Regions from separate parts of the Homo sapiens genome. Here all the other regions are linked to region 3. Evidence: fine-mapped expression QTL. A gene starts in region 3. Each other region holds a variant in brackets. All regions are shown on one strand. Distances are between the middles of the regions.

Region 1 (8,159 bases), 40 kb after region 3:
AGAAATAGAGGTGTAAACAGACTATAGCCTACACTTGTGCCAATCACCAAGTTTTGGGGGTTTTTTTGTTTTTGTTTTTGTTTTTGTTTTTTTTTAAGACAGAGTCTCACTCTGTCGCCCAGGCTGGAGTACAGCATTGTAATCTCAGCTCACTACAACCTCCGCCACCCGGGTTCAAGCGATTCTCCTGCCTCAGCCACCCAAGTAGCTAGGATTACAGGCGCCTGCCACCATGCCCAGCTAATTTTTGTATTTTTAGTAGAGACAGGGTTTCATCATGTTGGCCAGGCCGGTCTCGAACTCCTGACCTCAGGTGATCCACCCTCCTCAGCCTCCCAAAGTGCTGGGATTACAGGAGTGAGCCACCATGCCCAGCCACCAATTACCAAGTTTTAGCCAATCAAATGTCGCCAACTGTTCAAACCGTGTTCAAATGACAAGTGCTAAGCTGTAACCAATCTGACTGCACCTCACTTTCCTTTTCTGTTCATAAATCTTCTTCTACTAAGTGGCTGCGCTGGTTCCTACTCCGGCTCAGGAGGCTGCCTAATTTGCAGATCGTTCATTGCTCAATTAAACTCTTTTAAATTTATTTTTTTATATTTTATTTTATTTTATTTTGAGACAGAGTCTCGCTCTGTTGCCAGGCTGGAGTACAGTGGCACGATCTCAGCTCACTGCAACCTCTAACTCTCTAGTTCAAGCGATTATCCTGCCTCAGCCTCCCGAGTAGCTGGGATTATAGGCACACACCACCATGCCCAGCTAATTTTTGTATTTTTAGTAGACACGGGGTTTCATCATGTTGGCCAGGATGGTCTCGATTTCCTGACCTCGTGATCCACCCACCTCAGCCTCCCAAAGTGCTGGGATTGCAGGCAATTCTTTTAAATTTAATTCAGCTGAAGTTTTTCTTTTATCAATAGGGCTAATAATCCCCACCCTGCCAGTATCACTAGGATGTTGTGAGGATCTGACGCAATTTGAGTTACGGGAATGTTGAGAAAGAAAAGGGCGTAATGGAGTAACGAGATTAGTTTTCCTGTTATGGTGAGGTCAGTGGCCTTTCTGGGGTCAAGAAGAGGGGACTTTCCTTGGCACCAAGAGGGTAAAAGTGTCTCCTCCTGACCTTGGGTATTTTGGACCATGGGATCTGAGGTGTACCAGGAGACAGGAAGTGTGATCAGAAAAGGCCTGGTCTAATGGTGCACAGCTGTGCATATCCAAGTGGCTTGACCTCTCTGGGCCGTTTCTGAATCTGTGAGATGGGAATCATAACCACTCTCCTGACTTCACAGGATGTTTTAGGAGAGATTGGATCTGGGTTGGGGAGACAATTTTGGAAGCAGAAAAGGCCCCTCCGTGCTGGCAACAGCTCGTCCACCTCCAGCCTGTGTGTGCTGCCTCCTGGGTGACTGCTGGCTTTAGGCCAGCGCCTGGCAGGGCTTCACTAAAGCCTCCGTAGGCTGCTGCTATCTCAGTTCTGAGGTACGGGCCGTGGAGACCCCCAGATTTGGGCTTAAATCCCAACTCCACCATTGCACCTCTGAGCCTCTGTTTCTCTGCAAATGGGGATACTAGTCCCTAGCCCAGATGGGGCCTGGTACACAGTTGGTGCTCAATAAGAGCAGTTCGTCTTCTTCTGAGCATGGGTGCATCCCTCTGGCTGGGGTAAGCACCAACTCAGATTTCTAGGCCCATAGATGGGCTGGAACAGCTGCTGCTGTTAGGGGAAAACCTACTGTGTTACTAGCCAAGGGGTTCCCTTCCATGTTTTTGCCCCACAGGGCACCTGGCACAATGTCTAGCATACAGTAGGTGCTTTGTCCACACTGGCTGGTCAGTTACCTCCAAGCTGACAGAAACTCTGTCCCGTTCCCGACTGTTTCCATAGAACCTAGCACAGAGATACTCAGCAGGTGCTCTGTAGGTGTTTGGGAGTGAGGAATGAATGAACAAAGTTGAATGAACAAGCATCGGGCCCTCCCCCGGGGCTCAAATGGGAGAGAGGAGCTTCGTAGCCTGCTCCCCCTCCCACCCCAGCACCCCGTTTCATCCCTTCTGACTAATCCACAAAGATTAACCCAGGGATAAAGCGGGTCACGGCCACTGACCCAGGGCTTTGGAGCTAGTGTGACCGAGTGTGTGCAGGGCGTGGTGGCTGCTCCCAGGGGCCCTCTTTGCCCCAAGATGGCCCTCCTGTCCCCCATCCTGGATGTGGTCCTCACGGTGGCCCTCAGCCTCCTCCTCCTGGGGCTGATCCTGGGCCTCCTTTGTTTCTTCACTTGCCGCCTGGCCAGGCCGCTCAGGTAGGGGAACTCAGCTGGCCTGACTCCCCCTGCATCCCGCCAAATTCCCTGCCCTAAGCTCGTTCAGCTTCCATTTGTTCTCGTGAGATGGAGCAAGCGGGGCACTCATTTCTCTTACTCTTCATGGTGGGGAAACCAAGGCCCGGAGAGGTTGAGCCCTGGCGTCAGCCTGGGCTTAAATGGCGCATAGTCGAAGACTAGCCAAACCCTCTGTTGGGTTTCCTAAGCTACAAAACGGGGGCTCTTCATCCATATTGTGAGATCAGGGATGTAAACAGCATGGGGCTGAGTGGAACATGAGGGCCTAAGAAATGGTAGTGACACGTTTGTCCCATTCTTCTATCATTTGCCCCAGATCTTCTGAGACCCAGCCCAAGGCTGGCTTTTTGCCCCACTCCAGGATGCTCCCGGGCCCTCTGCCTGGGTTGCTGAATCAGTCCTCAGAGCTAAGGCCTGCCTGGCTCCTCAGCCCCCTGCACTGAACTGCCAAGTAGCTGCTCCTCTGGCGCCACAGCCTAGCCGGGGCTTCTGCACTGGCCATGCGTAATCAGGCTACGGAGGAGCCGGGAGCCTGGCAGAGAAGGGAGGGAGGGGGTGGCGATGGGGCTGACACACACCCGGAGGCCCCATTTTAAGCTGGCAGACATTGGCAGAGGGTGGTGGGCAGCCGGGGCCCCCACAGCCCCAAACTGGGCCCCTCCGCTTCCAGGGCTGCCACAGAGCAGCCAGGAGCCTCTGCGAGGGGGAGGGGTCCTAGGGGTGGGGCCAGCAGGGAGGCTCTGGGTTCTGAAGGCTTTCCCAGGTCCCCACCCTCTCCTTGTCCTGAGCGGAGGCTATGGGAGAAGGCACCTGCCTCCAGGCCAAGCCTATCTCAATGCCTATCCCTGGGGCCAAAATTCAGAGCATCCCAGCCTGAACTGGTGGCACTTATGGAACTGCTACCATGTGCAAGGGCTCGGGATGCAGAGATGGGTAAGATG[T/A]TGGTCTTTACGTTCACAGAGCTTCAGGCTAGCAGGGAGGAGAGACAGACCAATAACCGGAAGAATAATCATGTGGGGCTGGATGAGCCTTTCAGTGCTCCCGGGTCACTACACTTTTATTTTTCTTTATTCGCTCACCTGTTTTGGACCCTCAGTGCAGAGAGAGTGGGATACGTTATCTCACTTAGCACATGACATACCCAAATAAGCTCTCAGTTCTTGTTTTGTTTATTCATTTTTTCCTTTGTCCCTGCTCCCTGCCTCCCCACTGCCATTCCCACAGCTCACCGAAGTCCCTATGCTAATGTACTTAATATGGCCTTGGAGTTGTAAGTGTCCTTGTACGTTACACAGCATTCTGTCCGTGGGGGTGGTTTGCACTTACATACACTGCGTTTGATTCTTTACATTCATCACTCAGTCCTCTGCCTTTAGACCCCACCACGCTGCTGTTTGGACATCTAGTTTTAATACCACTGCCACGCAGACATTGCCTCCACCACTCCTTACTAATTCATTTCCCTAGTTGTGGACGAGACTGCCCCGGCTCCTCACCATCATAAGCCAGTGTTAAAAGGAGTTTGCCAAAGCTTTCTCCAGCGAGTATGATGGTTTCTGCAGGTTCTTGGCATAAAGCCTTTATCAGATTAAGGAAATTCTTTTCAATACCTGGTTTGCTGAGGGCTTCTGTCACATCGTTTTCTGTGACCCCATTCCCTCTCCCTAGGTGAGCACGTCAAGTTTGATCAGGGTGTTAACTGCCACCCCTGTGCCTATGATTCCCAAATTTATACTCTAACCCAGACTTCTTTTTCAAATGCCAGAGCCAAATATTCAGCTGCCTCCTTAGTGTCTCCACTTCTAAAAGACATCTCCAACTCAACATATCCAAAAACAAGTTCCTGATTGTCTCCACCTCACGCCTCAAAAGACCACCCCAAACGCCGAAAGGCTGAATGCTTTTTTCTTTTTCTTTTTTTTTTTTTTCTGAGATGGAGTCTCACTCTGTTGCCCAGGCTGGACTGCAGTGATGCGATCTCAGCTCACTGCAAACTCTGCTTCCTGGGTTCAAGTGATTCTCCTGCCTCAGCCTCTCAGGTAGCTGGGACTACAGGTGCACACCACCATGCCCAGCTAATTTTTGTAGAGAGAGTTTCACCATGTTGGCCAGGCTGGTCTCAAACACCTGACCTTAAGGGATCCACCCGCCTCAGCCTCTCAAAGTGCTGGGATTACAGGTGTGAGCCATCGCACTTGGCTCGGTAGTATATGGCTCAGAAACATTGCCATTTACAATAGTTCCCCAAAAAGCAAAATTCTTAGGTATAAATCTGGATTCAGAGTCCAGAATGCTAACCATTACACGATGGAACCCGTAGGTATAAATCTAAGAAAACATATCCAAGATCTACAGGCTGAAGACTACAGAGTGCTGATAAAACCGAAGAACTCTGACTGAATGAGTGGAGAGACGTGGTGTCTTCATGACTGGGCAACTCCATGTGGTATAGACGTAAACCCTCCCACATTGATCTGTGGATTTAATACCATACCTATCAAAAACACAGTGGTGGAGGACAGATCAGGGATCGCCAGGTTTAGGGATGGGGGGATTGTGTAACTATAAAGAACGCAAGAGAGATTTTTGGGGTGGCAGAGCTGTTCTGGGTCCTGACGGTGGCGGTGGTGGTTACATAAATCTATCCATGTGTCAAACGTCAGAACACTCATTTTACACTTGGGGGCAACAGAAATCCCTCCCTCTGGAGGGGGTGACTGATGGTAACCTGATTGCTAATTCTGGAATCAGGAGCCCTGTGGTCAGGTTTCTGCTCTGCAACTTCCTGTTGGTAACCTTGGGCAAGTCTCCGTCCAGAGCCTTGGTTTTCTCATCTGTAAAAGGAGATGATAGGTCCTTTTCTGTCCACTGCATAGCTGATTAGTGAAACATCATGGTGAAATTCTTTATGAACTATGGAGTGCAGCACATAGACTTGCTTTCATTTTGTCAGTATCCTTTATAGATTGTTCATGTAAGCTCCCAAAGAGTAGTATTTATTTTATTGAAATAAAATGCACGTAGAGAAAAATGTGTGTATCATACATTGACAGCTGAACCCACCGTGTAACCAGCACCCACCCACCCAGATCAATCATAAACCGAACCGCACCAGCACCCCAGCAGCCCGTTCCCGTTTCCGTACCCTCCACGTGGAGCCTCCGTTCTGTCTCCCAACGCCCTGGGTTAGTTTTTATACTTTCTGTCATCGGAATCACACTGTAAGTGCTCTTGGGTTTAGCTTCCTTTGCTCAAGCTTACCTTGTGCGATTCATTCATGTTGTTGTGAGGAGCTGTGGATCATCCATTCTCCTTGCTGTCTGTGGTGGTTTCTGTGTTGTGAACACACACAATGTATTATCCAGCCTGCCGTAGATGGAGGCAGTTTTGAAGCCATTATAAACAGGGCTGATGTGCACATTCTGCTGGAGAGAAACGGGTCCCAGGGTACAGGTAGGATGATCAGCTTCGGTAGATCCTGCCGGTTTTCCCATGCGCTGTGCCTGTCTGCACTCCACCAACGGCGAGCGGACCTTCCGGTAGTTAAACATCTTCACGAACTCTTGGACTTTCCTGCACACACAGAGAAGATAATTTTGGATGGCTCTTCCCTTCCCCCCACAACCTTCCTTAGGGCACTGGCTTTCAACTGATGTAAATATTTACTATGCCAAGCACTAGGAGGGCAGAGACAAACAAGACAAAGTCCTCACACTTAGAAACTCCCGGTGTGGCAGCTGAGATGGCCCAGGAAAGAACTATATTACCTTCAAAAAGAGAGGTACATGCGATGTTTGAGGTGGCATGAAGCTCAGTGGTGTTATATTGGAATGAGTGAGTGACCATCCTGGAGCCTTCCTGAAAGAGGTGACTTCATTTTTAAGTGATTTTAAATAATAGTTTAATGAATTAGTATTTCGTATTCAGTTAATAACATTTTTCTGATTTTAGGATTTGCTATAGAAATATTTGGAAACCGTAAAGTAGAACAAAAAAAAAAATGTAGGAATCATCTGAAATTCCAAATTCTACCACTCACAGTTAAGTGTTGTTAGATGTTAGATGTGGGATATTGCCTTTTAATTTCCACTCTGCGCCGCTACCCCCAGCCCCTACCCCAGAGCCGTCACTTCTGGCACTGGAGCGCAGCTTGCGTGGTTTTTTTTTTTTTTTTTTTTTTTTTTGAGACAGAGTCTCGCTGTCGCCCAGGCTGGAGTGCAGTGGCGCGATCTCGGCTCACTGCAAGCTCCGCCTCCCGGGTTCACGCCATTCTCCTGCCTCAGCCTCCTGAGTAGCTGGGACTACAGGCGCCCGCTACCTCTCCCGGCTAATTTTTTGTATTTTTAGTAGAGACGGGGTTTCACTGTGTTAGCCAGGATGGTCTCGATCTCCTGACTTCGTGATCCGCCCGCCTCGGCCTCCCAAAGTGCTGGGATTACAGGCGTGAGCCACCGCGCCCGGCCATTTGCGTGTTTTTAAGGTTGAATCAAGATCCTTCTTCTGGTGGTAGTGGTTTCTTTTTCTCCCTTCCCTTCCCTTCCCTTTCCTCCCCTTCCCTTTCCTCCCTCCCCTCCCCTCCCCTCCCTCCTTCCTTTTCTCCTTTTCTTTTTCTCTATTTTTAAATTAAAAAAAAAAATCTTGGATGGGCGCGGCAGCTCACACCTGTAATCCCAGCACTTTGGGAGGCCAAGGTGGGCAGATCACCTGAGGTCGGGAGTTCGAGACCAGCCTGACCAACATGGACCCCATCTCTACTAAAAATACAAAATTGGCCGGGCATGGTGGCGCAAGCCTGTAATCCCAGCCACTCGGGAGGCTGAGGCAGGAAAATTGCTTGAACCCGGGGGGCGGAGGTTGCAGTGAGCCGAGGTTGTGCCATTGCACTCCAGCCTGGGCAACAAGAACAAAACTCCGTCTCAAAAAAAAAAAAAAGAAAAAGAAAAAATCTTTTTCCTTTGAGCTGGAGCTGCAAAGAGAAGAATTTTTAAAAAGAAAAGAAACTTTTAAAAAATTAAAATACAAAAATTTTTCTTAGAGACAGGGTCTCGCTGTGTTGCCCAGGCTGGTCTCCAACTCCAGGCCTGAAGCGAACTTCCTCCAGCCTCAGCTTCCCAAGTAGCTGGGATTACAGGCATGTTACCACCATGCCTGGCTTTTTTTCTTTAAACAACTTTTAAAAAATGTTTTATTTTGTTTTTACTTAACATATAATAATTGGACTAGAGTGGTGTCTTATCTGTCACAACACTTTTCTAACGGTAGAGTGTGTATTACTGCTGTTTCCCACAACAAATGGTGTCATATCTTGGTTTTGGCTGAAGCAATAACATTTCCCAGTGAAACTCTTGCCACTTAAAATTCTTTGTCTTGTAACTCATGTGCAACAGGGTTAGTACATTTCTCAGCTGCCAGTGGGGTTGTTCTTTGTGATTTAACAGGAAGACCACAGTGTAAAAACATTCTTATGCCATTAATACATGCTTGTTTTAGGCTACTTGGAAAATTCAAAAAAATAAAGAGGAAATAATCATTCATAGTCCTACCACCCAGAGAAAACCACAGTTAATGTTTTGGTGTATTTCCTTCCAGTTTTTTTTTCCACCTAAACTCTTCAATTACATCCGACTTTAAATATATATATATTTTTTAAAAATTGTAAAGATAATACTGTATCTCAGCACAAAAGAAAATTTTGGAAATGCAGAAAAGACAATGGAAAAGAAAAATCAGTTGTCTGTGATGTCACCACCCAGAAATGGCCACACTTACCAGCCAGTTTTTTCACATATGTGACTCCTACCATTTTTATAT
Region 2 (8,177 bases), 54 kb after region 3:
GAGGCTGGGCTGAACAAGGGCAACAGGTGTGGGGCGGGCTGATGTCAGCCCAGCCCTGGGACCTCCAAGCTGTTAAGTCAGGTACAGGTTGTAGCGGGTCAGGGTGGGTAGAAGGTCTTCACCACCCAGTGGCACCCAACTGGCCAAAGAGGCTCTATGACCAACAGCACCGTGGTGTGTTTTGAGGAAGGCAGGAGGGAGGCTGGAACCAGCCTGGGCCTGGGGGACCTCTGAGGAAAACCTCTGGCCCCGGCCTTGCCCAGACTTTATCTCATGTCATCCTAGAACTGCCTGTGGATAGCTACGGGTGTCCCATTTCCTGGGGCAGAAACTCTTGTCCAAAGGCACCCTGTCGGGCAGAAGGGCCAAGGTGCTCCCAATTCCCAGTGGGGACTGCGTGGGGACATCTGAAATTGATGCCCTCAGCAGACACTTCCAGAAGAGAGAGGGTGGACCTGGGGCTGTCGGGATGAGGGTAGTGGGCTGAGGGATTGGGGTGGTGGTGACGTAAGGGGAGGCCTCTTGGGGAGGGGCGTGGGGTGTGCTTGGGTCCAAAGCTAGAGGTGCACTGCAGCACCCTGGCGGCTCCTCGCCTGTGCTCTGCGCCTATGCTAGGCTGGGGCAGAGCCACGGCGACGCGTGAGTTTCCGGTTCTCCCACTTGGGGCCCTAATCTCAGGCTCTCCATTTCCTAATGTGGAGGAGACACTGGTGCCCACCTGCCAAGGCAGTTGAGAGGAATAAGAGAAGCTGTGTGGGGGGTCCCTGGCATCTCGCCCAGAGCCAGTGCGTGTGTGAGGAAGGAGGGCTGTTCTTTACCCACGGCCACTCCGAGAGCCAGGCACGCGTCGGAGCTGGGCCAAAAGATGAGAATTGTGTCCCCAGCCCACGAACATGCTACACGGCCTTGGACAAGACCCTCCCATTCCTGATCTCTCCTCCCGTTCTGTGCAGTGGGAGGCCTTGAAAGAGGAAACCGCTAGGGAGCCTCCTCTCTAGGCTTCTGAGCAGATCTGATAGGGCCCTGGGACAGAGGGGAGCCCCGCAGACTCTGGGAGGGACTCCAGCTCCCATAGCCAGGGTCCTGGTCCAGCCCTGGAGACGGGATAATGGGGATGGGAGGCAACTTTTGAGCCTCTCCTGTGGGTCAGGTGTGTCACTTGCCTTATCCGGCCCAGTCCTTAGAGCGACCCTGAGGGGATGATGCCAGCAATGTCATTTAACAGGGGAAGAGACTGAGGCTGAGGGAGGTGACAGAGCTAGTACTTGGAGCAGCTGGGGGTTTTTTGTTTGTTTGTTTTTGAGACGGAGTCTAGCTCTGTCACCCAGGCTGGAGTGCAGTGGTATGATCTCAGCTCACTGCAACCTCCGCCTCCCGGGTTCAAGCAGTTCTCCTGCCTCAGCCTCCTGAGTAGCTGGGACTACAGGTGCACACTGCCACGCCCAGCTAATTTTTCATATTTCAGTAGAGACGGGATATCACCGTGTTGCCCAAGTTGGTCGCGAACTCCTGAGCTCAGGTGATCTGCCTGCCTCGGCCTTCCAAAGTGCTGGGATTACAGGCATGAGCCACCATGCCCAGCAGCTGGGGTTTTAATTGAGGTCTGTCTGGCACTAAAGCTGTGGATTGGTTGCTGGACACACACACACATGAGAAAGAGGGAGAGAGAAAGAAGTGTTCTTAGTTCTCATTTTATCTCAAAACCATAAAGCCCCAGCCAGAAGTCACTATCAGCCAAGAGGGATGGAGGGGGCGATGAGAGATGCAGAATGTCGTCCTTGATAACTAATCCTAACAAGAGTGAGATCACCTGGCTCCTTTAAATTTGACATATTAAGCAAAAGGCAAGCTTCGCTTTCCAGCACTGCTATTAAACCAAGTCAGGTTCCTGCTGAGCCTACTTTAATGAATAAGCTAAGCAGAGTTGATAATTGATGGCTGGCTATATCAGGGGACCCCTTCTGCTGGAAGGAGTTTGTTGAATAGGTTAAACATTACTCTCTTAATTGTGCTAGCACAATTCATTTGCTGCCTTAGCAGCTCATCTCCCTACTGGGTAGAAGGAATGAGCATGGGCTTTGGAGCGAAACCCAGCCCTGCCAGTGTCTGCCTGTGCTGTGTGGCCTTAGGCAAGTTGCTCGTTGTCTCTGAGCCTTGGTTTCTTCATTCTGAGATGTGAGGAGAAGACCCCAGGGTCCACAGGCTTTTCTGGAGGATCTGGATGGCACATATTTATAAACCACAGATGTGTTGTCTGGGTGGGCAACTATTGCACCCACCTCCAAGTTCAGGCATTCCAGCCTGAGCAATCAGAAGTGGGGGGATCTGTACGTCTGGAGATAGGAGGCTATCCTTACCCCGCCAAGTAACTGCCTCTCTCTGTGTTTAGAGAAAGAGAAAGACCCCAAGTACTGGCGAGACCAAGCGCAAGAGACACTGAAATATGCCCTGGAGCTTCAGAAGCTCAACACCAACGTGGCTAAGAATGTCATCATGTTCCTGGGAGATGGTGAGGCCCAGGGGCCTGTGGGAGGGGTGGAACAGGACACCTAGCTAGGAGCCCCGGGAGCCAGGCTGAGTTGAAGGGGGCTGTGTTGAAGGGGCTAGGGCTCTGGAGGAAGGGTGTTTAAAAGGATGAGGGGCCAGGCTGTGGATTCAAGAGGCCTGCTCTGCCAGACAGCCCCCTGAGGATCTGGGGGTGAAGGGAGAGAGGGGCTGCTCACTGACATTTACAGAGCCATGCCCAGTGCCAACTGCCCGAGCCTGCCTTGGTACCGAACTAGAGAGCTTCTGGGTACCCAAGCAGGCTGATTGGAGAGGCAGGAGCACGAGAGACTGAGGCCCCCACTCCCCACTGCAGGGATGGGTGTCTCCACAGTGACGGCTGCCCGCATCCTCAAGGGTCAGCTCCACCACAACCCTGGGGAGGAGACCAGGCTGGAGATGGACAAGTTCCCCTTCGTGGCCCTCTCCAAGGTGAGCCCCATCCCCAAGCCCAGTTCAGGTCTGTATATCCAGTATCCAGGTCGAGCATCTGAACATGACAGCAGCCAGAGGTCCCCTGACCCCCTGAGCCCCCTCCATGCCCAAGCCCACTCCCCACCTGGAGCAGCCACTGCCCTGACTTCTGACACCATAGCATCACTGTACCTGCTTGCGGGTGTGTGTTTAGAGAGAGGGTCTTGCTCTGTTGCCCAGGCTGCAGTGCAGTGGTGCAGTCATAGCTCACTGCAGCCTCCAACTCCTGGGCTCAAGCCATCCTCCCACGTTAGCCTCCCGAGTAGCTGGGACTACAGGTGTGTACCACCACATATGGATAATTAGAGACCCCCCCAAGGTCTCTAATTCTTGGGCTTAAGCGATCCTACAGCCTTGGCCTCCCAGTCTTGGGATTACAGGCGTGAGCCACCATGCACGGCCTATATATGCCTTTTTTTTTTTTTTTTTTTTGAGACAGTCTTACTCTGTCTTCCAGGCTGGAGTACAGTAGCATGACATCAGCTCACTGCAACCTCTGCCTCCCGAGTTCAAGTGATTCTTCTGCCTCAGCCTCCCAAGTAGCTGGGATTACAGGCATGCGCCACCATGCCCAGCTAATTTTTTTATTTTTAGTAGAGACAAGGTTTCACCCTGTTGGCCAGGCTGGTCTCGAACTCCTGACCCCAGGTGATCTGCCCACCTTGGCCTCCCAAAGTGCTAGGATTACAGGCATGAGCCACCGTGCCTGGCCTGTATACACTTTTGCATGAAGTTCCAGTTCATTCATTCTTTCCCGAGGCAGTTCGTGAAGTTAATTAGACTATAGGCATACCTCAGCTATACTTCGGGTTTGGTTCCAGGCCACTGTAATAAAGCAAATATTGCAATGAAGCAAGTCACACATTTTTTGGTTTCCCAGTGCATATAAAAGTTATGTTTGCACCCTACAGTAGTCTTTTAAGTGTGGGATAGCATTATGTCTAAAAAAATGTATATACCTTAATTTAAAAATATGCTATTGCTAAAAAACGCTAATGAAGTGAGCTCATGTTTTTGGAAAAAATGATGCTGATAGACTTGCTTGACACAGGGTTGCCACAGATCTTCAATTTGTAACAAACACAGTGTCTGTGGAGTACACTAAAATGAGGTGTGCCTGTACTGACCTAGGTTGTTCAAGGCAGTGTGCACTGCCGGGTAGCTATTGCTATTGGTGGTGGTGATAGTGGTGTTATGTAATAACCTCCAGACCCTGGGTCAGGCCCCAGGCTCACTTCTGGGGGAGTAGTGGGGACTATGGTGCCTTCTGTGCCTTCAAGGTGCTCTCAGGCTGGTGGGGAAGGGAGACAGGCAAATAGTTTTGGGGTCTCTGCTAAACATCCGGATGTAGGGCAACCCTGTGATGGTGGCCGCAGGGCAGGTGGCAGAGAAGTC[A/G]GCGCTGGTCTTGGCCCCACCCTTCCCTTCCCCAGTCCCCTTCCCCCTCACTTTCACTACCCTATCCCCAGACCCCCCACTCCTTCAAGAAGGCCCCTCCCTCTCCCTTCTCCAGGACTCCCCTGCTCCCCAACCCCTTGCTGGCTCCTGCAGCCCCAGGCCCGGAGAGAGGCCTCCGCTGACCCCACCTGAGCCCCAATCTTCCGCCGGACACTTCTCTGTACTTTGGAGAGCTAAGGTCCTGCCCCAGTGCTGCCAGGGTGCAGGGAATGATGGCAGGAAGCAGGCAGCTAGGTAGTCCTGTGGCTCTGGGGGGCTTCAGTGGGCAGTGGGCCTGGTCAAGGCTATGGGGTCCTCTCTGGTCCCTCACGCCCCAGTCCCCATGGTGTGAGTGTAGGCGGGGTGGGTGCCACTGGGGCGAAGGCCTGGCCATCTCCTGACCCTCCTCTCCCACCTGCAGACGTACAACACCAATGCCCAGGTCCCTGACAGTGCCGGCACCGCCACCGCCTACCTGTGTGGGGTGAAGGCCAATGAGGGCACCGTGGGGGTAAGCGCAGCCACTGAGCGTTCCCGGTGCAACACCACCCAGGGGAACGAGGTCACCTCCATCCTGCGCTGGGCCAAGGACGCTGGTGAGTCGGGGGAGCAGTGGGGAGCAGGGCCAGCTTCGTGGCCTGTCCAGGCCTCAGTCTTTCTGACTGTGTCATGGGAAGGGGCTAGAAAAGGCTTCTCTGTGGGGCTCCCAGCTCTGATATGCTGGGAGTCTGTAATATCCATGGGATTCCTTCCGTGACAGGGGAAGCTGAGGGTTTGGGGTTCACTCAGTGGTGGGTTCTGGTCCCAGTTCATTTCTCTGAGTCGATTCTTCATTTGACTATAAAACGGGTGGGAACGTAGCCCCCTCATAGGGTTGGTGTGAGGAGGGAGAAGTCAGCCCAGGGCTAGCCTGTGGGGTGCAGTCCATGGCCACGCCCCTTCCCTCCTCAGAATTGGGAGGCCCAGCCTGTGCCCCCAGAAGCTTTAGTCAGGGGCCAAGGCCAAAACACAGGTGACAAGGCCAACATACAGGTGACAGAGCCACAGTCCACTTGAGATCCCTCAGGGGTCCTGTGGGCGCCTTGATGAAGGGGAGGACTCCAGCCCAGGTGCTCACATCTCAAGGGCCTTCGGGGTGAGGGGAGAGGGTTCCAGAGGCAGTGTTCTGGCTGCTCGGCTACTTGGAAGCCACTGCCAGACACCTGCTGCTGTGGATGGGGAGACTGAGACCCGGGCAATCCTCAGAACTGAAGCGGGGGCCTGTCTTTAGCGGGGAGGGGGAAGGGAGGGAGGAGGCCTCTGGGACACCCCGATCTGTGGATAAAGCCAAACCCGCCCCTCCTGCACCCCAGGGAAATCTGTGGGCATTGTGACCACCACGAGAGTGAACCATGCCACCCCCAGCGCCGCCTACGCCCACTCGGCTGACCGGGACTGGTACTCAGACAACGAGATGCCCCCTGAGGCCTTGAGCCAGGGCTGTAAGGACATCGCCTACCAGCTCATGCATAACATCAGGGACATTGACGTGAGTGCTCGGGGGCAGCCGGGCAGGGACGGGGTGAGGCGGGGCCTCTGGTGGGCAGGAGGCCTCAGGCCCAGGCTGGCCCGGAGAAAGCAGCCTGGCCTGGCTCCCCACACACCTGGGAGGCTCCCAGCCCATTAGGGGATTTGCGGTTGGGCAGGCAGGCACTGTGGGATTTCTCTGCGGTGGGGCTGCGGGGTGAACCCTCATGTGACCGCCACCACACCCCAAGAACCAGGCATCCAGGGATGATTCCATAAATTGAAACCTGGTGCTGTGCCCTCCTCTGCCCCCCACTACACGGGAGGTGGTGATGGCCAAGTGTCGTCTGCCTGCCCTGCGTATTCACATGGTCACAGATGGGTACATATCTGTACACTCAACCACCAGCATGCCCGGCAAAGAGCTGGTGTGTACAGTGGTTGGCTAGTGCCAGCTCTCGTGTTTAAACTTCCGAGTTCCAGACCTTGCCCTGCGTGTTGCTAGCTGTGTGACCTTGGGTCAGTTACTTAACCTCTCTGAGGCTTCCCTTTCACAACTCCTTTGTGAACTGTACCTGCCTCATAAGCTTATGCCAAGAACTGATTAAGATAATCCCTGTGGAGCTCAGCACAGGACCCGAGGCCTAGCGAGTGCCCAGAAGGTGGTGGCACTTACGCAGGAGCCACATGTCCTTGCCCTGAAACACACTTCAACAAACTGAGCTGACTCATGGAGACAGAAGTCATCCATGTGACGCTTACTCTCTGTTCTTAAGTGAGAATGCCCGGCTCGTTCCTTTTCAGGCTTTTATTGCCTACTGTGGGGGACTGCTGAGGCGATCTGGGGACTTCTGCCCCTTGAGCCTGGAATGGGGATTCGGTGAGGGGCAGAGAAAGCCCCCCTGCCCAGCTACACCTCACCTCTTTCTCTCCACCACCAGACAAACTCACCTGCCTTCAGCCCTCCATGCACTGCCCCCCACAAATTTCTGGGGGCTACTTGGCCCCTCCACAGTAGAGACCCACGTCTGCCCTTTTCCCAGCATGGTGGATTAAGTACCCGCTTTCAGGACACACAGTGCTGTTGGCCCCTTTCACTGAACAGACATCTGAGGCCAAGCCACTCATCCTGGCTTGCCTTCACCCGACATGTGGCCTGGGGCGAGTTCCTTCCCCTCCCTATGCCTCAGTTTCCCCACCTGTGCAGCAGAAACAGAGAGCCACACTTGCTTGCTCCCAGGGCCGTGGGAGGCCGTGATGAGGTCATGGATGTGAGAACATTTGTTGTACAGGCACAGGGTATAATTACATGGGGACTGCTCCTCAGAGGGGTTTGTCAGGGACAGCCTGAGCAGGGGACAGGAACTTGAAGGAAATTCGAGGGGAGGGAAGATGTTTCAGGTGAGGGGGTGGGAGATGAGGAGGGGGGGCCGCAGGGGCCACGTCAAGGGGCACAAGCCAGGGAGTGAGTGAGGACGGAGGACCTGTGTGAGGATCCCTTTCTTTCCTCCTCTTCCTTTCTCTCCCAGCCCCACCTGCCTCTCCGTCACCACCCCCCCAAAAGCCTCCCAGTCCCCAGACTGTACATGAAACAAAAATCCTGGTGTCCACCCTGAAAATAAATACTGTTGCTTAAAAAAAAAAAAGAAAGAAGAGAAAGAAAGAAAGAAAGACACAAACCTAAACCCCAAAGCCAAACAGCAAGTCTGTTATTTGGGAGTTTAATGAGCCCGTGTGAAGTCGCTGCCGGGCTGGAAACGATGAGGCTCCCTGCAGGAAGATTGGGGGCTTCGTTTTCCACTCTGAAGATGCCAAGAGGTCAGGTTCTGTGGGAACAGTTGTGGGGGGCGGGGCAAGGGACCCGTGACCTGGGGTCCCCTTCTCCTTCTTCTCCCAGCCCACCCTGCCCCCTGAGCTCCTGGCTGCAGCTGAGAGCAAGGACTCTGCCTCTCTGAACCACTTGTTTCCCCACTCCTTCTGGCAATAGAAATGCCTTCCAGTGGCAGCCACCCCCTGGGTGCTGGGGACTTCCCTGGGTGACTGCCTTTCCTCCTGTGATGGGTCTGTGGATGGATGTTAGTTGCATTTTATTTATTATTATTATTTTGAGACGGAGTCTCATTCTGTCTCTAAGGCTGGAGTGTAGTGGTGCGATCTTGGCTCACTGCAGCCTTCACCTCCCGGGTTCAAGCGATTGTCCTGCCTCAGCCTCCTGAGTA
Region 3 (8,170 bases):
CCGCCCACCTCGGTCTCCAAAAGTGCTGGGATTACAGGCGTGAACACCCTCGCCCGGCCTATTTATTTATTTATTTATTTATTTAGAGACAGAGTCTCCCTCTGTTGCCCAGGCTGGAGTGTAGTGGCACCATCTCGGCTCACTGCAACCTCTGCCTCCCAGGTTCAAGTGATTCTCCCGCCTCAGCCTCCTGAGTAGCTGGGAATATAGGTGTGCACCACCAACCCCAGCTAATTTTTTTTTTTTTTTTTGGTATTTTTAGTAGATACGGGGTTTCTCTACGTTGGCCAGGCTGGTCTCGAACTCCTGACCTCAAGTGATCTGCGCACCTTGGCCTCCCAAAGTACTGGGATTACAGGCGTGTGCCACTGTGCCCGGCCCCTGTTATCTTACTAACTTACTTATTAATGTTTGTTGTTTATTATCTACCTTCCCAACTAAAGTGTCAGTTCCGTGAGGATAAACATTCTGTTTTGTTCACTGGTATGTCCAGTTCCTAGAAGGGTGCCTGCTGCAGAGCAGGCATCCAATAAACATTTGTTGAATGAATAAGGTTGCCAAGTCTGCCTGGGATAACAGCCTGCTCACTGGAAAGGTGACGATGACAACAGTGATGGTGCTTTGGTGTTGCAGGGAGGAGCAAGTTAAATCTCACCTATAAAGATCTTTCCATCAGGCTGCAGACACAGAGGGAGTCCCCAGCAACAATAGCTCATATATGCTTCAGTTTCCTCATCCGTGAAGAGAGAATAAAAGTCCCTACTTTTATTAGCGTCCAATTGCCCTGGCCACGGCAGCATTGTCGGTTTAATGATGCTGCTTCGGCTGTCGTAGTCTCTTCCACCTCATGCCTTTTGGTTCATTTTTTAACTGAGTTAAAGGTGGGGCTGTAGGTGGCACTGGGAATCAAATGGCTGAACTTGTGCTCAGGCCTGGGCTTGAGATAAAATGACCCCTTTAGTCCAAGCATCAAAACAGACCAAGGTTTCAGGCCCCCTTGCCTTTAAATAGATTTCAGGGATTATTTTCTCCAGCCCTAGACCACAGCTGACTCCTCACCGCCTCTCCACGAACAGACCTCAGAGTTTTGTTTTCTCTGTCTCTCTCCTTTCTTTCTCCTTTATCTCTGTCTACTGAGGTCCTGGCTGTCCCCCTGCCCCACCCTACCCTATGCTCTTGGGCTTCTGGCCTCATCTCTAACTTAGCTTCTAATTTTTTCTCTTCTTTTCCTTTCTTTTTTTGAAACAGAGTCTCACTCTGTCACCCAGGCTGGAGTGTAGTGGCGTGATCTCAGCTCACTGCAACCTCTGCCTCCAGGGTTCAAGCGTTTCTCGTGCCTCAGCCTCCCAAGTAGCTGGGACTACAGGTGTGCGTCACCTTGCTCGGCTAATTTTTATGTTTTCAGTAGAGACGGGGTTTCACCGTGTTGGCCAGGCTGGTCTCAAACTCCGGACCTCAGGTGATCCACCTGCCTAGCCTCCCAAAGTGCTGGGATTACAGGCATGAGCCACCACGCCCGGCCTAACTTAGCTTCTAATTCTAATGCCTGGTGAACCTCTTAAATTTTTTTTTCCCAAGACAAAGTCTCACTCTGTTGGCCAGGCTGGAGTGCAGGGGTGTGATCATAGCTCACTGCAGACTCTAACTCCTGGACACAAGAGACCCTCCCATCTTGGCCTCCCAAAGTGCTGGGATTACAGGCGTGAGCCACCATGCCTGGCCTGCCTAGTGAACTTGAAGGTCTAGCTTGCGGCACAGGCTCATGGCATGCACTTAACAGATACGGAATAAATGGATGAATGGAAAAAGCCCTGGACTGGGAATAGTAAACCTGGTAACCAAACCCAGCTCTGACCCTGACCTGTAAGTAACTACTATCTCTGGCCTTGGTGTACCCCATGTATAGTGGGGATTGTAAACACCTGCCCTGCCCACCTTATGATACTGCTGTGAGACTCAAAAGACATCATTAGCTCTTAGGCACAGGGAGCTTGGAGGTTAAATCCAATTTGTTTAGTTTTCAACAAGGAAGTGGTGCCCCAGGGACAATGATGGAGAGAAATCGAATGTAATGAGCTGTTGCCACCAGCTGAGTGGTCCTGAAATCATGGCATCTGGGTTGCACTTAGAGATTGTCCAGTTCAAAAGGCCAGAAGGAATCTGAACCTCGATGGGAAAAGTGACTTGCTCAGCTCCCCAGCAAGCCAGGGCAGAGCTGGAGGATGGACTGGAGTCTCCTGGTTCCAGGTCCAGGACTTCTTTCCGCTGTGTTGACAGAGCCAGGAGGAGGGGCACCCGGGGAGCAGGGGAGGCAAGGGCTGCTGGATGCCCCATCTCAGTTGAATTCTCCTTGAGGGACCCAGCCCAGGAGCAGAGTAAGAGGGTTTGAGGGTGGAAGGTGGCAGGGCTGGCCAAGCAGTATAGTCCCTGCTGCTGATAACCAATCCCTGAAATCCCGAGGTGGAGGGACTTGAGGGCAAATCACAGACATGGGGGACCTAATGCTGGCCATGTGGCTCAACCAGAAGTGCCCGTCCCTCATAGCTTTGGGGAGATCAGAAGTCAGGGATAGGGTCGGGTGTGGTGGCTCATGCCTGTAATCCCATCACTTTGGGATAAGGAGGCAGGGGGATCACTTGAGCTTAGGAGTTCGAGACCAGCCTGAGCAACATAGCAAAACCCTGTTCTTTACAAAAAAATACAAAAATTAGCCGGGCGTGGTGGTGCACACCTGTAGTCCTGGCTGCTGGGGAGGCTGAGGTGGGAAGATCACTTGAGCCCGGGAGGTCGAGGCTGCAGTGAGCTGACATCATGCTACTGCATTCCAGCCTAGGCAATAGAGTGGGACCCTGTCTCAAAAAAAAAAAAAAAAAAAAGTCAGGGGTGCTGGCCCCATGATAGGTGCAATGGGTGCCTCCAATTCCCTCTGGCTCTGCCTCCCAGCCTCTGTCCAAGCAACAGGCAGATTTTCCATGCCTGGGGACTTGCCCCTGGCTCACTGATGATGATACCATCTTAAGTCTCCTGGAATCCTTAAACCCTTCCTTGGCATTTGTGAGCAAGTATTGAGCCCCTCCCATGTTTTAGGCCCAGTGCTGGGTGCTTTCACCTGCAATTTCTTACAGAGGATGGTATTTCCTAAACTCCATTCATTTGCTACCTCCATGATTTTTGCCATATCACCCAACCCATGAAATACATAAATAAATAGTATTTACTCAATATTTTGACTCACTTTTAAAAAACATAAACTTATCTGAAAAGGGAACCTATGTCACGCCTCTAAATAAACAGTATCAACCAAAAATACAAAAGAAACAAAAATAAATACAAAGACATTCTTGGTTTCTGGCACCAGGCCCCAGTTCTGGCTCCAACCTTACTGAGAAGTCACATGATCTCTCTGGGCCTCAGTTTTCTCCTCTGGAAAATGGAGCTTTTGGAAGTTAATGCATGCACAGTGCCTGGCCCTGAGACTGGCATGGAGTGAGTGGAAGAGAGGTTGCCTGACCTGGCTAAAATTGGTTCTCTGGGCAGACATTTTCCCAAGGGCCACTGAGAAGACCCTCCTGTTAGGAGTCAGTGAGCTCTGTCGCTGGAGGCATTCAAACAGAGCCTGCGGACTTCTCACTGCGAAGTTGCCCAGAGAATTCAGTGCTCAGAGGAAAGGGAGTGGTTATTCCATCAGAGCTGGTTCCCCAGGAGCGGGAGCAGGGCCTGTAGCACCCAGCCTCTGTCCCTGGCTCCCGTCTATCCGGGATTTTAGCGTTTCCTCTGTAGTTTTCAAGCACTGTCTCATATGACTCTCGCACCAGCGAGAGGCCAGGGGAGATGGTGTCTGCCTGTTAAAGAGGGGCAGGCTGGTCCACATAGGTCAAGTGACTTGGCCAAGGTCACCAGAGCAGAGTTTTGAACTTGAGCTGTCTGACTCAACTGCCTGGGAAGTGCCTGCCCCTCCTCTGGCATCCAGGGAGCATGTCCTGGGGCTCTGGCTGGGACATAGCCGGACACCTGCGGGCCCTTTACGTCTCTAAAGAGAGAAAGAGGGAAGGGCCCCTGTCTAGGGGGTGGTTTCCCTCCAGATGCCACCCCTCCGAGGTCCCCTTCTGCTTCTTCTTGCGGTAGCCAGGGAGGCAGCCCACGGGCAGGGAAGCGGGGGTGGGGGTGCAGAGTCAGAGGTGCACGTGGACAGAGACAGAGAGACAGGGACACGTGGGCAGAGACGGATAAAGACAGAGACCCAGAGAAAGCCAGATATGTTGACAGACACAGAGACAGACGCCAGAGAGGAAGGCAGACAAAGAGACGGGTGGAGACAAAGACTCCCACCAAGAGACGCAGAAGGAAGATGCCGACGGTAAAGACAAAACAGGAGACGCGCGCAAGGAGCAGGTCAGAGCCCAGGCTCGCTGAGAGAGGAAGGGCTGGGCTGGGGCAGCCCGGAGGCAGAGAGACCGAGAGTGCGGGGCGGGCGAGGGACGCCAGGGCCGCGTCACCCCAGCCCGTTCCTAGCTCCGCTCCCGGCAGGGGGCGCCCTGGCCTCGTGGCACGACCGGCCCGCGGGGCGCGGGGCTCGGGCCGGGGGCGGGGCCGGGGCCGGGCTGGGGAGGGGTTGGGGCCGGGGGCGGGGGAGGGGGCGGGCTGCCCGGGCCTCACTCGGGCCCCGCGGCCGCCTTTATAAGGCGGCGGGGGTGGTGGCCCGGGCCGCGTTGCGCTCCCGCCACTCCGCGCCCGCTATCCTGGCTCCGTGCTCCCACGCGCTTGTGCCTGGACGGACCCTCGCCAGTGCTCTGCGCAGGTAAGGATTCGACGCTGCCCCGCGCCCTGGTTCCCCAGGGCCCCAGCGGACGTGGTCCATCCCCTTCTGCATCCTCCGCTGGCCCCGTGGTTGAACTTTAATGGCAGGGCCGGGGTCTCCAGCGCCACGCCGCCCACAGCAGCCCATTCGGGACGCCCTGCAATTGGTCCTGCCCCTGTCCTCCCGCGCATCCCAAGCTCCCGGCGCGCGCTCTGGGCGGGACAGGAGATTGGACGTGGCGCCCGCGGAGCCGGCGAACTCAGGGGACCGCGCTCGGGACCGCCCTGCAGTCCCAGGGTCTCCTACCTCCCGAGCCGCTGCCTGGGACCCTGCGCTCTGTCTGGGCACCTGCCCTTGGTGCCCCGTGACTGAGCCCCTCCTGGTGCCTCCTTAGCCGTAGCTCTAGAGACCTGGGCTGCCAACCCCAAGGCCTCGTGGCCTGGCGCCCTCCCAGGCGTCCCACCTGACCCGGTGGGGTCTAAAGCAGTTTGGTTTGGGAGGAGGAGAGGGCAGGAGGCGCTTGGAATGGGGGGCGTGGCGGGAGGAGACAGAGGACACCCGCGTGGGTGTCAAAGTGTGGGCACCCACTGTGGGCACCGCAGCTGTGGGGCAAAGCTCTGGAGCCCGCGAAGCCGAAGGAGCCTGCCGCCCCCTTTAGGCTTTGCGAGGTGGGCCTCCCAGGGCTGCTTCCCTGCCCAGTCTTGGTAAGAAAGGGTTAAACGCAGGTCTCAGCAGAAAGGCAGGAGGCCGAGGAAAGCCTCCCCCACTCCCCATTGTGCCTTATGACTCTTTTTCAACACATAATGGGGTCGAAGGCGGGGCCTTTACAAAGGCCTCTGGGTGGAGGGTGAAATTCCTTGAGATCAAAAGAGGGGGCGATTCTTGGGCCAGGAAGGGCTTTGGGCCCTGGGAAAAAGTCAGACCGCTCAGGTGGGCCCAGCTGCCCAGGGAGGCAGGGGTTGGGTCCCAGCCTCAGTGTAGATACTGCAACTGTTTTTTGAAGGCCTACCGTGCGTAGAGGGACCTGCTCTGACATCTCATGTACATCATTTCATTTTACAAATGGGGAAACTGAGGCTTAGACAATTTAAGTAAGTGGTGGGACCAGGGTTTGAATCCAGACTCCAAACTCTGCAGCCCTAGCGTCCTGCTCCCACTGTGTTGCCTAAGAGATAGGGGGCTGAGCCTTGGTTTTGTCTTCCGGCTCCTCCTGGGCTCAGCCCGCTCTTCCTCCACTCTCCAGTCTTGCTCTTTCCAACTGTTTAGTCCTCCCCACCTGTGGGTGTCCCCACGCTGTCCTGCCCCAGCCATCCCACTCCCTGGCCCCATGCATCTTGTTCCTGTGTCACCTTTTTCTTTCTTTAACTGAATACCTGTGAATTCCCTCAGAAGAGGCCCCTGGACACAGCTTCTCAACATCCCAACTGGTGAAGACTAGGCTGAGTGATGATCCCGGTCCATGTGCCCATTTGTAAAAAGGGGTGTATTCCCCTTTCGGGACTATTGTGAGGAATAAAACTGAACTGAGGCCAGAACAAGATGCTATCTTCATTCAGCAAATACTTAAGCATCCGCCGTGTGCCAAGCTCTGTTCTAGGTGCCGGGAATGCCACAGTAAATCAGCCAAAAGCCCTCTTCTGGATTGGATGTTTGCATAACAAAATTCTTTCAGGCTTTGAAACTGTCAGAATTCACAGTGTAGACTTGAAATCAAGCTATTCATAAGGAAGGAGATTAAGACGCAATCACCTGTAAAATGGATTGGCCAACCTTTGGCCCTCACTTTAGCAAAGGCAGCCTTGCTGTGGGACCTGGGATCAGTTCTGTTCCCTCTCTGTGCCTCGGCCTCCTCCCATAAGCTGTGGAGATCAATAGTGCCTACCAGTGGTGAGGTCTAGATATGATGAATGCTTGCGAAGGGTTTAAGCTGGTACCTGTGCTTAAGAAAATCCTGGCTATCCTCAGCTCTCTTCTCAGCAGAAAATGCAATGCGGAGACTGGAAGTTGGGTTATGTGCCTACCCTGCCTCTGAACCTGTTACCCACTTCTGCCCAGGCCCTTCCCATCCTGTTGGGCTACACATGTGGGGTGGCATGGTGCCCTCTTTGCTCACACTCAGATGCCACCTTCTGTCGCCATCCTAAACACAGCCTGGGCTGGGAGCGCAGAGCTCCATGATGAGATCAGCCCTGGAGCCATCATCTCTGCAGCGCTTCCTGCCCTCTGCCTGTTCTTGTGCCTCACCGTGTCCTAGCTCAGGACCAAACTCAGCCCTGTTCTGTCCCATGACTTACATACCCAACATTCCCTGCAAGCTGGATATGATCTTGGAAAGGGGAAGTGAGTTGCCCAGAGGCACACAGATGCTACCTGAGGAGCTGGGGCTGGAGCCTGCGTATCTAGAATTCCAAATCTAGCAATCTCCATGCTGTACCCATCTCTGGGCATATGAGGCCTTTTAATCCAGGGAGTAGGATCCAGTAGCAGAGCCCGAGTTCTCACCTTGAAATCAGTCTGACTTGGCTTTTTAATACAAAACCCAGAGCTCTGAGAGAACATTGCTGGGAGAGTGAGCAAGCTGGGCTGAGAACCAGCACTCAGAAATCTCCATGTGGCCACAGGAATGCTGACTTGGCTTCCCAGCACCATGTCGTCGTCCTTGGCAGGCTGGAGCTGGGCTTTGTGGTATGTTAGATTTGTTTTTTTTCTTCTGGAGATGTCCTCACTTTCAGAGGGCAGTTAGGGGCAGTAGACTGAAGGTTCATTCCCAGCACTGCCATGCGACCCTGGACAAGTCACCTTCCCTTTCGAAGCCTCAGTTTTCTCATCTGCAATATGGGTTAAAATTATATACTTTGCAGGGTCGCAAGATCATAAATGGTTTTCCAACTTTGGGCTGAACCAGCATTGATGTTATTAAGACATTCATATTTCCTGTGGAGCAATTTCAAAAGCAGTTAACTTTATCCCTACCAGGTGATCCTGAGGGCCTGAGGGAAGTCCACGTTTAGGTCACAAAAGCCTACACAGCAGGGAAAACACTGGTTTGGGGGCTGGTGTCTTGGATTCCAATCGCCAGCTGTGTGACCTGAGGCAAGTCACTTTACCTCTCTGAGTGTCAAGCTCATAGGAGGCCCCCAACATCAAGATATGATGCTCAGTGTCTGAAGAACATAGTCTCCGTATTTTTCTGCCTCCTTGTACCAGCTCCCAACCCCCCCGCCAACACTTCGTTAATTGCTCCCAGAAAAACTCTATGCTTAAAGTTTTCCATGCTTAAATTCTCAGCCTCACTGTGGCATGAAATCAATTGTTTGCATTGAATTTGACTTCTCAAATTAAGGGGTAAAATTTGAGATGAGAGTAGGGGGT

Evidence for each region.
Region 1: its variant is fine-mapped to the expression of ALPL in whole blood (TOPMed, PIP 0.96).
Region 2: its variant is fine-mapped to the expression of ALPL in whole blood (INTERVAL, PIP above 0.99).

The regions. Positions count from the first base shown.
Region 1 is chr1:21,545,214-21,553,372 of GRCh38, forward strand. The region is part of intron 1 of ALPL (alkaline phosphatase, biomineralization associated); the gene reads left to right. Among named protein-coding and RNA genes, the nearest start is that of LINC02596, 37 kb to the right of the region's middle. The variant T/A (reference allele first, on the strand shown) is at 3,290.
Region 2 is chr1:21,558,237-21,566,413 of GRCh38, forward strand. ALPL (alkaline phosphatase, biomineralization associated) reads left to right here. Exons shown (of 12, transcript NM_000478.6): 3 at 2,390-2,509; 4 at 2,861-2,976; 5 at 4,874-5,048; 6 at 5,805-5,980. Among named protein-coding and RNA genes, the nearest start is that of LINC02596, 24 kb to the right of the region's middle. The variant A/G (reference allele first, on the strand shown) is at 4,414.
Region 3 is chr1:21,504,720-21,512,889 of GRCh38, forward strand. ALPL (alkaline phosphatase, biomineralization associated) reads left to right here and starts at 4,704. Exons shown (of 12, transcript NM_000478.6): 1 at 4,704-4,798. RefSeq lists a silencer at 4,512-4,611 and enhancers at 4,647-5,217, 5,218-5,787.